2 separate regions of the Homo sapiens genome follow, and region 2 is linked to region 1. The links come from fine-mapping of genetic effects on gene expression. Tissue or cell type: monocytes after R848. Region 1 holds a variant in brackets; the other region holds the start of a gene. All regions are shown on one strand. Distances are from middle to middle.

Region 1 (8,000 bases):
CCGAGAGGCCCTAGCTTGACCGCCCCCCCTCCAGGGGCTGCTGGGAAATGTAGTTCTCTGTCTCTGTGGTTCGGGATCTCCGAGGCGGGGGATGGAGGAAGGGGGACTCACGCTTGCCCGTGGCCAGGCTGCGGTTGTAACCAACAGGACTGAGGTACTCGAAGATGAAAACAGTGACGGCGACCACAGTGAGGCACATGACGAACATCATCACCCACACGGCGGGGCTGTAGGGCTCTGGGGACAAGGGAGTGCGTGGTTATGGCTCAGCCAAGCAAAAGACTCGGGGATCAGGCTGGGGCGGTGCCTCACGCCTGTACTCCCAGAACTTTGGGAGGCTGAGGCAGGAGGATCACTTGACGCCTGGAGTTCAAGACCAGACTGGCCTTGAACTCCCTGTCTCTACAAAAAAAAAAAAGGAAGAAAAAAGAAAGAAAAAAAACCCTAGGGTACTACCAGCAGGGAACAAGGTGCAGCCCAGATCTGACCCCATCCTATTCTGGCCCTATCTCTGCTTCTCCATCTCCAAGATAGTCTTATGGCACACCCATACCCCTAGGAGGCAGCCATTCTCAAAGAGAGCCGTCGCAGGCATTTCTGTGGTTTCAGCCACCAAATAGAAACTGTCTCCTAAATGTTTCCTGAGTCACAGGCCCAAGCCTCCACCTACCCCAGCCATCTCCTCAGGCCATTCATCATGTCCCATGCTGAGCCCAGACCAGCTCCCACGCTCCTCATGATGGGAGCCCCACCATCCACCCAGTCACAGGCCCAAACCTCATTTGCCGTCCTCCCTTCCTCCCTCCTTCTCCCTCGCTGGCCACAGCCTGTCAGTATCCAGCCCCACGCTCCTGCCCCTGATGCTACTTGGGCCTCTCCTCTCCATTCTCATGGCCAACAGGGCTCAGGCCTCATCTCCTCCCACCAACCATTTCCCCAGCCTCCTGAGCTCCTGTCTGTCCCCTACAGCCTATCCCCCACACAGCACAGAGAGGACCTGGCCCCTCCCCTGCTTACAGCCCTCCCCAGGCTCCCTAGCACCCCCAGGACAAAGTCCCTGCCACTCAGCCTTGTCACACTCTCCTTTCTGTCCTGATCACTCTCTCAAGCACCCATGCTTTACTCAAAACTCACAGGTGGCTGGGTGTGGTGGTTCACGCCTGTAATCCCAGTACTTTGGGAGGCCGAGGTGGGAGGATCACCTAAGGTCAGGAGTTCAAGACCAGCCTGGCCAACATGGTGAAACCCCATCTCTACTAAAAATACAAAATTAGCTGGGTGTCGTGGTGGGCGCCTGTAGTCCCAACTACTCAGTAGGCTGAGGCAGGAGAATTGCTTGAACCCAGGAGGTGGAGGTTGCAGTGAGCTGAGATCGTGCCACTGCACTCCAGCCTGGGTGACAGAGCAAGACTCTGTCTCAAAAAAAAAAAAAAAAAAGAACTCGCAGGTGCCTGAATCAGCGACACCCTCTCTTCCTTGTCTCCTAGGTGTCCCTGCTAGAGTTAACACCCTGCCCTGTCCATTAGACAACCTCCCATTCATGTGTCCCCTCCTCACATTCGATAACTGTGTTTAGCCCCTGGGAGCTCACCAACAATAAACCCAAATCACCATTTCATTGAGATTAGGACCAGGTGATTCAACTTTCCAGGGCCAAGTGTGAGCTGTCAGGACTGCCCCCGTCACAGCAAGGTCAGCACCCTGGACTGTCACTGCGGCAGCTGGGGACACGCCTGTCACCTCTGCTGGGCAACTTGGTGGGGCATAAATAGGACCTTGTCACTCCTCTGCAGTGTGCTGCCTGCAAGCAGGGGCCCCACGTGGTGCTTCTCAGTGTGCCCTGCAGAGACCTTGGTGCAAAGGGGAGGCCACAGGAGACACCACTGGGCGAAATAAACAGAAAACAAAACACAAAGGAAGGGATGGCTCTTCTTCCAGCCCCTCCCCTCTCCCAGGAGCTTTGCTCACACTTCAGAGAGCAAGTGGGAACTGACAAGCACTGTTGCCCTTGGCCGATGTACGCTTCTCCAGCTCAGCAATGGTCCCTCTACCCAATCCATCTCAAAGCCACCAGCCCATCTGGTGGGCAGCTCTCTAACCACACCCTGCATCTGTCTGCTGTCACCTTCCTATTGCACACCCCCACTCTGTCTCTGGCATAAACCTTGCAGTAGCATCCCCACCAGCCACTTGCTTCCACAGAGTGGGATTTTTTTCTTTGTTCTTTTTTAGAGATAGGGTCTGGCTCTGTCATCCAGGCTGGAGTGCGGTGGTGCCATCTTGGCTCACTGCAACCTCTGCCTCCTGGGTTCAAGCCATCCTTACACCTCAGCCTCCGGAGTAGCTGGGATTACACAGAGCTGGATATTTTAAAAACTTAAATCTGATTATATATCCCCACACCATCTTCTGTAGTTAAAACCCTTGTCCGGGTGCAGTGGCTCACGCCTGTAATTCCAGCATTTTGGGAGGCTGAGGTGGGCAGATCACCTGAGGTCAGGAGTTTGAGATTAGGCTGGCCACCATGGTGAAACCCCGTCTCTACTAAAAATACAAAAATTGGCCAGGCGTGGTGGTGCATGCCTGTGATCCCAGTTACTTGGCAGGCTGAGGCAGGAGAATCGCTTAAACCTGAGAGGCAGGTTGAGGTTGCAGTGAGCCGAGATGGTGCCACTGCATTCCAGCCTGGGCGACAGAGTGAGACTCTGTCTGAAAAAAAAAAAAAGAGAGAGAGAGAGAGAAGTAGAAGCTTATCTTCTGCCTCCTTCACAAGGCTGAGAGATCCTACTGGACAGGGATTTGTGTCTTCCTCATTTGCCACTGTGTTCCCAGTGTGGAGCCCACCACCTGGCACATAGTAGATGCTCAGTAAACACTGATGGTGACTTAAGTGCTTACAAGGTATTGGTACCATGCTAATTTGTTCTCTTCATCTCATACCTAGTACAGGAAAACACTTGGGTTTTGTGGGGCCTGAAGCTTGCACAATTTGGAGGGCTCTCTTTGAGAAAAAATAATTCAACCTTATGAATACAAAACCAGGTGCAGGGCTTGGAAGCTGCAGTGCAAGAGAAGGCTCCTGAGCTCAAGCTTCTTTAGCCTCTTGATGAAATGTCTTCTGGGTAGGGAAATTATTTCTTCCATCTTGTAGATTAGGAAACTGAGGTTCAGAAATGATGTCACTTCACCGAAGTTGCACAGCGGGTTCAAGTACCGATGATACCGGGAACCCAGGTTTTCTGATCCCAGGGCCCACACGGTTGGGGACGGCTACTTTGCCTAGGGCTAGCTCCCTGTCCCAGGGCCCCAGATTACCGAGGAAGGCCGAGGGGGACACCGTGCCATTGCTGCGCGCCACCATGACGCTGATGCCGGTCTCCACGAAGGGGACGGAGAAGTCCACGATCTCGGAGCGCTCCTCGTTGATGGTGAGGGAGCCGATGGCCATGTCTGCGCGCTGGTAGAACACCTGGGGTGGGGGCGATGAGGAGTGGGCGGGGGAACCCGGCTCAAGCGGACAGACTGACACGGACGGCGAGCAGAGACGGGCCCCGGGAGCAGACCAGTGACAGGGTGAGGGAAGGGGCCAAGAGGGATTGCGAGGTGGGTGAGGAGGGGGACGAAGAGTGGGGCAGGGAAGGGCGGAGGTGAGAAATGGGGAACAAGATTGGGAATTGGTAGCCCGCGTCCTACCCGGCTGCTCCCAGCAAGACCTCAAGGCCTTGGTCCAGATCTTCCCAGCCCCACCCTCTTCCCCTAGATTCTCACCCTCCTGGCCCCTCCTCCTCTGTACCAAAGTCCCTCCTCCCAGCCCCGCCCCCTTCCCCTAGGAGTCCCACCCTCCTAGCCCCGCCTCCACTGCCCCAAAGTCCCTCCTCCCAGCCCTGCCCCCTTCCCCTAGGAGTCCCACCCTCCTAGCCCCGCCTCCTCTGCTCCAAAGTCCCTCCTCCAAACCCCGCCCCTGACACCTCCTGACCCCGCCCCCTGTTCCAAGGCATGTCCCTCCCGCGACCCCGCCCCAGGCCCCAATCAGGTGTTTCCTCAATTTGGCCGCGCCCCTGCCCCAGGGTGCCGACCTCTTTTTTTTTATTATTATTTTTTGAGACTGAGTCTCACTCTGTGCCCAGGCTGGAGTGCAGTGGCGCGATCTCCGCTTACTGCAACCTCCGCCTCCCGGGTTCAAGCAATTCTCCTGCCTCAGCCTCCCGAGTAGCTGGGATTACAGGCGCCCGCCACCACGCACGGCTAATTTTTTGCATTTTAGTAGAGACGGGGTTTCACCGTTTTGCCCAAACTGGTCTCGAACCCCTGAGCTCAGGCAATTCGCCCGCCTCGGCTTCCCAAAGTGCTGGGATTACAGGCGTGAGCCACCACGCCCGGCTGTGCCCGCCTCTCGACTCCGCCCCGAAGATTCCCCGCCTCCCGTCCGCCCCCTCACCTCCCCGATCATGCCGTTCCAGACGCCATCGATCTTCTTTCCGTGCTTGCCATTGGTGACCAGGTAGAGGTCGTAGCTGAAGCCGATGGTATGCGCCAGCCGCTTCAGAATGTCGATGCAGAAACCCTTGCAGCAGCGCTTTTCCGGGCGGGGGGCATCCGGTGGAGGGCTGCGGGCAGTGACCAGGCTTGGGGAGTTTGGGGACCCCCTCCTTAGACTCTCTCATGAAGAGAGGATA[T/C]GGAGGAAGGGATAGGCGGCAGCTAAAACTATGGTTAGCGCTTTCAGGGGAAACTCAGGCTCAAAGAATTCTGAGGTTTGCCTAAGGTCACCAAGCTGGAGGGCTTTGTGGGTCCTGGGTCCCAAGGGAGGAGGGGGCTGGGGGCCCAGACTACTGGGCTTCACGGGAGGCGGGTTTTGGAGCCGGAACTCCTGGATCCCGAGCTGTCACCTGTGGGTTCGGTTGAGCTGGCTCCGGCAGGGGACGGAGTCTCGGATGCAGGTGCCGCTGATAGGGTCTGCAGGCTCCACGATGACAAACGGCCTTTCCTCCAGCGTGGCCACCGTGAGGTGCTGCGTGTCGTCCACTGGCTGCAGGAAGCGACCATAGCGGGACCACAGCGGGTACTTGAGGCGGAGCGTCTGCTGCTCCCAGCTGCCCACCTTGGCCAAAGGGAAAGAGAGTCAGGCTTCCTGGGAAGACTTCCCGGTGTATCCTGGCCTCCATGATCCTCTTCCCTCAGACCTAGGTGTGTGGGCAGCAGCTTCTTCCAAGACCCAGGAGCCCCTCCCACCTTCAGATCCCAGGACCCAGGAGTCCAGGCTCCTTGTCCCCTCCTCCCTCTTAGTCCACGACCTCAAGCCCCCCCTCTGCCAGGATGCAGGAGTCCACACCCTCTGCCATGCCTGAGGTCTGGGGCTACGACTCACCACCTCCCACGTCCTGTCTCTGGTGAGGGAGATGACCACCAGGGAGGGGTTCACTAGGAAGCCGTCCTCATTGAAGGAGTAATCCCGGTTATCCCACGTGATGTTCATGAAGTACCTGCCCAGGAGGAGGGAAAGGGGACATGCTGGGGCCTGGGCTGGACCTTGGCAGCGGAAGGCAGAGAAAGTCCCCTTTCTGCAGACCAGCCCCAGCCCCCAGCTGGAATCTCTCTTCTTTTACCTCCAAGGTCTCAAAAACACGAATATACCCCTTCCCTGCTCAGCACCCTCCCCTTGGCTGCCCAGTGCCCCCCAGGATAAGGTTCCAGACTCTCTTTCAGCTTGGTGTTGAGGCCCTAGAGTCCCCTTTTCTTTCCTTCTTTTTTAAAGTAGAGATGGGGTTTCACTATTTTTCCCAGGCTGGTCTTTTTTTTTTTTTTTTTTTTTGAGACAGAGTCTTGCTCTGTCTCCCAGGCTGGAGTGCAGTGGTATGATCTTGGCTCACTGCCACCTCCACTTCCTGGGTTCAAGTGATTCTCCTGCCTCAGCCTCCCAAGTAGCTGGGATTATAGACATGCACCACCATGCTTGGCTAATATTTTGTTTGTTTTTGTTTTTGTTTTGTTTTTTGAGACAGAGTCTTGCTCTGTCACCCAGGCTGGAGTGCAGTGGCATGATCTTCGCTCACTGCAACCTCCGCCTCCTGGTTCAAGCAATCCTCCTGCCTCAGCCTCCTGAGTAGCTGGGATTGCAGGTGTTCACCACCATGTCCAGCTAATTTTTGTATTTTTAGTAGAGATGGGGTTTCACCATGTTGGCCAGACTGGTCTAGAACTCCTGACCTCAGCCTCAGTGATCCACCTGCCTCAGCCTCCCAAAGTGTTGGGATTACAGGCATGAGCCACCATGCCCTCTTTCTTTTTTTTTTTTTTTAATGTGTGGTTTTTTTGTTTGTTTTTGTTTTTGTTTTTTGAGACAGAGTCTTGCTCTTGTTGCCCAGGCTGGAGTGCAATGGTATGGTCTCGGCTCACTGCAACCTCCGCCTCCCGGGTTCAAGCAATTCTCCTGCCTCAGCCTCCTGAGTAGCTGGGATTGCAGGTGTTCACCACCATGTCCAGCTAATTTTTGTATTTTTAGTAGAGATGGGGTTTCACCATGTTGGCCAGACTGGTCTAGAACTCCTGACCTCAGCCTCAGTGATCCACCTGCCTCAGCCTCCCAAAGTGTTGGGATTACAGGCATGAGCCACCATGCCCTCCTCTTTCTTTTTTTTTTTTTTTTAATGTGTGGTTTTTTGTTTGTTTTTGTTTTTGTTTCTTGAGACAGAGTTTTGCTCTTGTTGCCCAGGCTGGAGTGCAATGGTGTGGTCTCAGCTCACTGCAACCTCCGCCTCCCGGGTTCAAGCAATTCTCCTGCCTCAGCCTCCCGAGTAGCTGGGATTACAGGCGCCCACGACCATGCCCGGCTAATTTTTTGTATTTTTAGTAGAGACAGGGTTTCACCATGTTGACCAGGGTGGTCTCGAACTCATGACCTCAGGTGATCCGCCCGCCTCAGCCTCCCAAAGGGCTGGGATTACAAGCGTGAGCCACCGCGCCTGGCCTGGCCCGCCTCTTTCTTTCTCTCTCTTTCTTTCTTTCTTTCTTTCTTTCTTTCTTTCTTTCTTTCTTTCTTTCTTTCTTTCTTTTCTTTCTCTTTCTTTCTTTCTTTTCTTTCTCTTTCTTCTTTTCTTTTTTTTAAATTTTTATGTATGTATGTATGTATTTATTTATTTATTTTTGAGACAGAGTCTCGCTCTGTCGCCCAGGCTGGAGTGTAGTGGTGCGATCTTGGCTCACTGCAAGCTCCACCTCCCAGGTTCACGCCATTCTCCTGCCTCAGCCTCACAAGTAACTGGGACTACAGGCACCTGCCACCACACCCAGCTAATTTTTTGTATTTTTTTTAGTAGAGACGGGGTTTCACCGTGTTAGCCAGGATGGTCTTGATCTCCTGACCTTGTGATCCGCCTGCCTCGGCCTTCCAAAGTGCTGGGATTACAGGCATGAGCCACCACGCCCAGCCTCTTTTTTTTTTTAAGTAGAGATAGGGTCTCACTACTTTTCCCAGGCTGGTCTTGAACTCCTGAGTTCAAGTGATCCTCCCACCTCAACCTCCCAACATAGTGGGATTACAGGTGTGAATCACTGTGCCAGGCCCCTAGAGTCTGTTTTTGTTCTGGCTTTGCCTTCCTCTGAAGCCGCATCTCTGAGAGTTCCCACCCTCAAACTTCAAACTCTTTTCACCCCAAAATTCTTTTTTTTTTTCTCTATCAACACTGGCTTCAAGGTGTCTCCCAAACATGTCAAGTGATTTCTTATCTCTAGGACTTTGCAGATGCTGTTCTCTCTGCCTGAAAAACCTTATACCACCCCTTATCCTGACCAACTATTCTTCTTATTTATTTATTTATTTATTATTGAGATGGAGTCTTGCTCTGTCACCTAGGCTGGAGTGCAATGGTGCAATCTCAGCTCGCTGGAACCTCCGCCTCCCAGGTCCAAGCGATTCTCCTGCCTCAGCCTCCTGAGTAGCTGGGATTACAGGCAAGCACCACCGCGCCTGCCTAATTTTGTATTTTTAGTAGAGACAGGGTTTC
Region 2 (8,000 bases), 240 kb after region 1:
CAATAAGCATTTGTTACATTGGAACTGGGTTCTGTTAATAGGTTTCAGATTAGGCCTGAGCTTCTTTGAGCTTCTTGCAAGCTCTAACGTTCTAGGTTTCTGGGTGATGTGTGTGTTTGATGCTGTTCCACTTTCAGATCTCCGAGTCTCTGTTTCTAGAATAAGTAGTGAGAAAGAAGTTGCAAGAATGTATTTCACAATACATGTTTAAATAACTACCGGTGAAAGAGCTGTTAAGAGTGTGCTTACTCTGTGCTGGATGCCTTTCTGAATAATTTACCTATGAGATAGACACTATTATGTCTCCCATTTTCCACATGAGGAAACTGAGGCCACAGAAAGGTGAAGTCACTCACTCAACAGCATCCACCAAGCATCAGCAGCACAATGGCCCAGAGTCCATGCTCTCGAATCCTGTAACAGCTATCACTTAACCAGCCACCCCATGTTCCAGGCACCAGGGTTATGTGTTTTTCTCATGTATGATCTCACAGTATCCTCACAATGGCCCCATGAGGCGGGTATCGTGATAACCCCATTTCAAAGGATGAGAAAACTGAGGCTTGGAGATGTGAAGTCCATTGCCCAAAGTCACCCATCCAGGAAGTCGTGGAGCATGTCTCAGGCAGCCTAAAGGCAGAGCCTGTGTTCTTAAGCACTCTGTTCTTGTCTACAGCTCCCCAACCAAGGGTCTCAAACTCACACACCTACTGGGACCAGGCAGGCAAAACAAGCAAAAGACAGTGCTAGGGATGAGGCAGCAGAGAGTGGCAGGGTTTGGGGCAAACCTGGGCAGCAAAGCCCCATCCAAGAGGGGTGGCCGTCTGCCAATGGAAACATGGGCTCACCTCTTCCGGTGTTCCAGTGGAAGCTGGAAACCTAACTGTGTGGGGAACAACCCCTGTTTAAAACTGGGGTCAGACCAGGCACCGTGGCTCACACCTGTAATCCCAGCACTTTGGGAGGCCAAGGCAGGCAGATCACCTGAGGTCGGGAGTTCAAGACCAGCCTGGCCAACATGGTGAAACCCTAAAAATACAAAAATTAGCTGGGCATGGTGGCGCATGCCTGTAATCCCAGCTACTGGGGAGGCTAAGGCAGGAGAATTGCTTGAGCCCAGGAGGCTGAGGTTGCAGTGAGTGGAGATTGTGCCACTGCACTCCAGTGTGGATGGCAGAGCAAGACTCCGTCTCAAATAAAATAAAATAAAATAAAGTAAAATAAAATTGGGGTCAATTTGGCTGGGTGTGGTGGCTCATGCCTGTAATCCCAGCATTCTGGGAGGCCGAGGTGGGCAGATCACCTCAGCCTCCTTGAGGTCAGGAGTTCGAGACCAGCCTGGCCAACATGGTGACACCCCATCTCTACTACAAATACAAAAATTAGGTGGGCATAGTGGCACACACCTGTAGTCCCAGCTACTTGGGAGGCTGAGGTGGGGGAATCTCTTGAACCCAGGAGTTGGAGGTTGCAGGGAGCCAAGATCGCACTACTGCTCTCCAGCCTGGGCAACAGAGTAAGACCCTGTCTCAAAAAAATAAAGACTAAATAAAATACAATTGGGGTCCATTAAAATACCCCTGGCCACCTGGGTGTGATTCTGGCTCTCCTGGATTTCTCACCTGCCCCTCTTTGCACAGTTGTAGGGAACTACCTGTGAGCTTGTTCTTTTAACGTCAATCTTTCTGTCCAGTCAGAAAGTACCAGAAGGGCAGGGATTTTTGTCTCTTGCCCAACTCCATCGCTCCAACTAGAATATCCCCAGCCCACAGCATGGGACCTGGCCCCTTATTCACTGAATAGATGGATCCTTTTCTTTATCCTGCGGCTTCTCTGCAGTTCAGTCTCCCAGTCTCTGTCTCCCAGTCTTTGTCACGTGTACAAAACCTGGCTCTTCTGTTTCCCTGGCTGTCTCTGGTGTCTCTGCCTCCATGTCTCCATGTTTCTGGAATTTTCCGTGACTATTTTCTCCTCTTGGGGTGTGTGTGTTTTACGCTCTGCCTCTCGAAGTCTCTATTACATTCTGTAAGTCAGGCCGGGCACAGTGGCTCGCGGCTGTAATCCCAGCACTTTGGGAGGCAAGACGGGCAGATCACCTGAGGTCATGAGTTTGAGACCAGCCTGGCCAACATGGTGAAACCCCATCTCTACAAAAATCCAAAAATTGGCCAGGCGTGGTGGCGCGTGCCTGTAATCCCAGCTACTCAGGAGGTTGAGGCAGGAGAAACAACGCTTGAACTCGGGAGGTGGAGGTTGCAGTGAGCCGAGATTGTGCCATTGCACTCCAGCCTGAGTGACAGAGCAAGACTCTGTCTCAAAAAAACAACACAAAGCAAAACAAAACAAAAACAAAAACAAAAAACCACACAAAAATTAGCCGGGCATGATGGCAGGTGCCTGTAGTCCTAGCTACTCGGGAGGCTGAGGCGGGAGAATCACTTGAACCTAGGAGGTGGAGGCTGCAGATGGCACCACTGCACTCAAGCCTGGGCGACAGAGCGAGACTCCATCTCGAAAAAAAAAAAAAAGTCTGTAAGTCGGGCCCACACCATCTCTTGCTCCGTGAGTATCTTTGTCTCTCTAGCTCCTCTTCTTCTCTCAGTACATGTCCCTCCTTGACTCCCGCCTCTCTGCAAGGTGTATTTGGCTGCCTCAGTTGGCCTCTCCCCCTCTGCATCTCTGGGTGGGGTGTTCTCTGCCCGTCTCCCACCCACACCCACCCCCGGTGCTCCCCTTCCCCCCAGCAGGACAGCGGCTCAGGTTCACGCACCCCACGGCGGGCCGGCTGGGCGCACGCACGTCCTTGCACACAAGCCGCACGTAGCTGTACTTGAGCACGTCGATGAGCGTGTAGAGCGGGGGCGCACTGGCCCAGCGGCAGCGCGCCAGGTGCATGGAGCTCTTGACGAAGAAGAGCGCCAGCCGCTGCTGGCACCACGCGTCGAAGAAGCGGCTGAACTCGGCCCACGAGAAGAAGGCCCGCTCCCGCAGCTCCTGCTCCTCCTGCCCCGCAGCCGTGCCGGGTGGGGGCTCCGGCCGCTCCATCCTGGGGGCCTGCGTGGAGGAGGGGAGAACAGGTGGATATCAGACCCATTCCCACCCGGGGTATCTCATCTACTCCATTCTTGGCCTGCCCCGTCGGTTGCTGGTGCCTCTATCGAGGTGGGTAGCCCGGGGTCGGACGTGCCTGTTTTTCTCCAAATATATAAATATCAACCTCCATCCTATCTTTGGCCTCCTCCCACCGCCTTATCCCTGGTTCACTTGGAGCCTGTCATCTTGATTCCTAATTCCAACTCGTCTCCTCCTCCGCAGATGTGACCCTTAGGTACAGTTGGAATCTCTCCTCCCAAAATACGACCCTTAAGCTCAGATGTCCCTTAAGGACATCTCCTCAAATGTGTTCTCAAATTCCAGCTAAAACCTCCTCCCCTTCCAGCTGTGTCTCTCACCCAAGAGTAACTTCTAACTCTCGTATTCATCTGGAACTCCTCCTTCCATGTGCCAACAGTTGGCTGTAACCCCTCCAAAGACGCTCCATCTCCAGATGTGCTCCCACATCCAGGCCACGGACCCCTCACCCGGTCACATGCTTCATGCACCTGTGGCTCCGCACTCCCCAGATGTGCCTCTGGCGTGCAGCTGTTGCCCCTTCCCCCGATTATGACCCTATGGCTCGCCACATGCAGCTGTAGCTGGGGCTTCCCTGAGACACTCTCATCTCCAGATGTACTCCCCACATGCAGTTATCCACGCTTCGCCTACAGGTGTGTGCCCCACTTGTGGCTAGTTCTCCTCGGAAGTGTCACCAGTATTCACCTGTGGTCCCCTCCTCCTCAGATGCGGCCCCCAGTCCAGCTGTGGGCCCCTCCTCCCAGTTACATCCACCATCCCCCGCAATATGCATCTTCGTTCTAGACATGGCCCCTCGTCCTCGGATGGGCTCCTTCACCCCAGATGCTCCCCCCACGTCCAGCTGCGCGTCTCCCCTCGAGCAGCCCCATCCAGCCCGCTCCCGACCCTCCTACTCCCCCCCTCCCCGCCCGCTGCGGCACCTTCCAGCCCCGCCGTCCCACCTAGCTGTGCCTCTCCCCTCCCCAAGATGTGCACCCTTCCCGCCCCTCCCCACTCACCTACCCGCCCCGGAGCGGCGTCCACCTCCCACAATGCCCCGCGCCCAGGCCTGGCCCGGCCCTTGCTCCCGGGATGCCCCGCGCGGTCTCCCGCCTCTCTTCCCGCCGTGCCTCGCGGGGGCGCTTCCACCGATTCCTCCTCTTTCCCTGCCAGTCACTCCTCAGACCCTCAGCCACACCCGCTCATCCAGGGCGAGGGAAAGCGCGGGCATTTTCCCAGTGTGCTCTGCGGGAGGGCTCGCCCCACTTCACCCCTTTTCCCGCCCTCCTCCCATTCGGGAGACTACGACTCCCAGTGTCCTCCGCGCGACGGCGGCGGTGCGGACGGTGCCCAGGTCCCGCCCCTAGGCTCTGCCCCGCCCCCGCCCGCAGACGTCTGCGCGCGAATGCCGTGGCGCGAACTTGGGACTGCAGAGGCGCGCCTGGCGGATCTGAGTGTGTTGCCCGGGCAGCGGCGCGCGGGACCAACGCAAGGCAAGTGGGGCCGTCCGCAAGCAGATGGGAGGCGGAGGGCGGCGGGTGCGCCGAATGCTTGGGGCCTATGCTTCGCCATGTCGGGGTGTCTGCAGAGGAGTGGGCGTGGGGACGCTGAGGCTGCCGAGAGCGCGGTGGAGACGGAAGAGCGCGGGCTGCGGGCCGCCGGAGAGTGCAGAGAGGTGTCTCCCAGAGGGAGGGGGGCCAGGTAGAGGGTAGACGAGAGACAGAGACAGTTGGACAGGTCCTCTGAGAAGAGGCCTTGAGGTGCGAGTTCACCTGGAAAGGGGAGAGGCCAAATGGAACTGAGGGGCGGGGCCGGGGGGGGGAAAACTGTGTGGGCGGGGCCAGCTGGAAATCGGAAGGCCCCCCGAGGGGGCGGGGCTATCTGGGAGGGGGAGGGGCTGAAGGGAGCTAAGGGGCGGGGCCGGGGAAAAGATTGCGTGTGGGCGGGGCCACCTGGAAGGGGGAGGTGCCAAGGGTGGGGCTGGCTGGGAACCGGAAGTGCTGAGGGGGCGGGGGCCACCTGGAAGTGCTGAGGGGGCGGGGCTAGAAGAAGGTAAATCGCGGGCAGCAGCATCACCTGGAAGGAGTGGGCCCTACTGGAGGGAGATGGGTGGTGTCAGGGAGAGGTCAGTGGTAAGGTCCAGGTCTAGGTAAAGGGCTCGTAAAAGATGGAGAATCATCTGAATGGGGAGACGTCTGGCCTAATGTATGCTTGATAAAGGGATGGAGCTTACCTCTTGTTTTTACTTTTTATTTTGAAATAATTATAGATTCAAGGAAGTTGTGAAAAGAGTATATCCATCTTCCCCTAATGGTGACATCTTATGTAGTCCCAATATCGAAACCAGGAAATTGACATCAATACAGTTCTGTTAACTAGATTACAGACCTTGTTCAGTTTTCACCAGTTTGTGTGGTGTGAGTGTGATTGTGCATCTGTGTGCCCGTGCAGCTTGATTCCTTGTATAGATTTGTGTAACCCCCATCGTAATTGTGATATAGAACAGTTCCCTCTCCACATAAGAACTCCTCCCCAGGCCCCTGGCAACCGCTAATGTGTTCACCATCTCTAGTTTTGTCATTCGGAGATTGTTATGTAAATGGAATCATATATTATTAGGATGTTACCTTTTTTCTACTCTGCACAATGCCCTGGAGGTCCACCCAAGTTGTTGCTTGTATCAGTGCTTCGTTTCTTTTTATTACTGAGTACTGTTTCATCCTTACTTGATATTTTTCCTGTCATTATCTCTTCATTTTGGTAACCGCTTTATTGAGATATAATTCACAATTATACAGTTTGCCCATTTAAAGTGTACAATTTTGCCCATTTAAAATGTACAAGTCAGCGGTTTTCAGTGTATTTAAAGTGTATTTCAGTGTATTTAAAGTGCCCATTTAAAGTGTACAAGTCAGTGGTTTTCAGTGTATGCGCTGAGTTGTGCAGTTATTACCATAATCGATTTTAGGATATTTTTATCATCCCCCCAAAAAACTCCTATACCTTTTATCCATCATTCATTTAATTTTAACCCTGAACAATATTCTACCATATGGTATTCCAGTAATGAGGGAACCAGTTCCCTAAGGGTAGACATTCCACCAGTTTCCAGTCTTCTCTCATTACAGTTAGTGCTGCAGCAGGTAACTTTGTGCCTCACTTGGTCCACCTGTGAGGGTCTCTGTGGGCCAAATACACAGAAGTGGGGTTGCCGTTCCGATAGAGACGCCAGGTGGTCCTCCAGAGGCATCAACCAGTTTGTTCCCCCCAACTCAGCAGTACACAGAGTTGAGAAGCCAGCCTTGAGTACCGTGGTAAGGAGAAAGGAACGTGGGCTTTGGAGCCAGCCACACCGGGTTTTGAAGCCTTGCCTGAACCCCAGCTATGTTCCTCTGTCCTCATTACCTTCATCTATAAAGTGGGGATGATCTCACCTGTCTTGGAGGGCTGACTTGAGGATTGAGGGTATTTGAGAATGTGATCAGCCTGTCAGGCATAGAGTAGGCTTCCCAGTAAACGCTTATGTATTTCTCCTTCCCTTGCAACTCAGTCTGGTGGTTAAGAGGTGAGCTGTGGAGCAGGCCGACCTGGGGTGGAACGTACTATAGATGCAGGTTAAGTTCCTTTGAAAACCCCTCTGTGCCTTAGTTTCTGTAACAGAGTTGTTGTGGAGAGTCAGTATAATTGAGAATGTCAAGTACCTAGGCAGTTGAGCACTCAGGAGGGATCGTAATAGTTTTCTCCTTTGCCCTCAGGATTTTGGTGGCTAAGTCCCTAACCTGCTTTCTGTGTGAACTGTTTGGTTGAAGCATTGCTTACTTCCTGCTCCCCAACTGGCCCTGAGAAACTCTGTTTGGAAATTGCTGAGTTTCTTTTTTGTTTGTTTTTTTTTTTTTTTTTTTTTTTTTAAGACGGGGTCTCGCTCTGTCGCCCAGGCTGGAGTCCAGTGGTGCAGTCTCAGCTCACTGCAACCTCTGCCTCCTGGGATCAAGTGATTCTCCTGCCTCAGCCTCCTGAGTAGTTGGGATTACAGGCTGGCACCACCATGCCTGGCTAATTTTTTGCATTTTTAGTAGAGATGGGGTTTCACCATGCGGGCCAGGCTGGTCTTGAACTCCTGACCTCGTGATCCGCCTGTCTCAGCCTTCCAAAGTGCTGGGAGTACAGGCGTGAGCCACAGTGCCGGCCTACTGAGTTTTTTGATTCCAAAATTGAGTTTGAGTTGTGGTGCCAACATGTGGCGGCCAAGGCTGTAGAGAGTAGTGGAGACTTAGAGGCGTGTGGTGCGGGACAGAGAGTACTGATTCCAGAAAACGAAAGGGGACCCCATGGGTTGAAGAAGATTTCTGTGCAAAGGAAGGGAAAGTCAAAGAAAACCATTTCTGTTGCCCAGGCTGGTCTGAGCTGGTCTCAACTCAAGCAATCCACGCAGAGGTCCTGCTAGTCCTTTTTTAAAAAATATATTCATAGTGGAAGGAAATATAATGTAAATAATTATAATTACATAATTATAATGTGTAATTTATTTTCTTCCATTATAAATATTAAAGATATAGAAAATTTATAATTTTTTATATCTTTAATATTTATAATGGAAGGAAAGGCTCAGTTCCAATTAGAAGTTTACAAGAATAAAGTCGTAATTTCTTTCCTGTCAAATTTCATAGACCACTTGAGTTCTGCTCTTGGACTCCTGGGTTTTGTGGACCCCAGATTAAGAACCCTTTCTTTTCTTTTTCTTTTTCTTTCTTTTTCTTTCTTTTTTTTTTTTTTTGAGACAGAGTGTTACTCTGTTGCCCAGGCTAGAGTGCATGATCTCACTGCAACCTCCACTTCCTGGGTTCAAGTGATTCTCCTGCCTCAGCCTCCCCACTAGCTGGGATTAC

What was found. PIP is the estimated chance that this variant, and not a neighbour inherited with it, causes the effect.
Region 2: it holds the start of LIG1, and the variant in region 1 is fine-mapped to the expression of LIG1 in monocytes after R848 (Quach 2016, PIP 0.95).

What each region holds. Positions count from the first base shown.
Region 1 is chr19:48,411,471-48,419,470 of GRCh38, reverse strand. It overlaps GRIN2D (glutamate ionotropic receptor NMDA type subunit 2D), which reads right to left. Exons shown (of 14, transcript NM_000836.4): 5 at 5,366-5,480; 6 at 4,887-5,098; 7 at 4,439-4,607; 8 at 3,316-3,469; 9 at 112-237. Among named protein-coding and RNA genes, the nearest start is that of GRIN2D, 22 kb to the right of the region's middle. RefSeq lists enhancers at 48-287, 38-804, 4,517-4,656, 4,362-5,083. The variant T/C (reference allele first, on the strand shown) is at 4,677.
Region 2 is chr19:48,166,848-48,174,847 of GRCh38, reverse strand. LIG1 (DNA ligase 1) reads left to right here and starts at 4,504. Exons shown (of 28, transcript NM_000234.3): 1 at 4,504-4,607. It overlaps ZSWIM9 (zinc finger SWIM-type containing 9), which reads right to left and starts at 4,168. Exons shown (of 4, transcript NM_199341.4): 1 at 4,134-4,168; 2 at 2,771-3,054. The coding sequence starts at 3,045. RefSeq lists silencers at 3,976-4,115, 4,916-4,965, 4,996-5,065 and an enhancer at 4,363-5,022.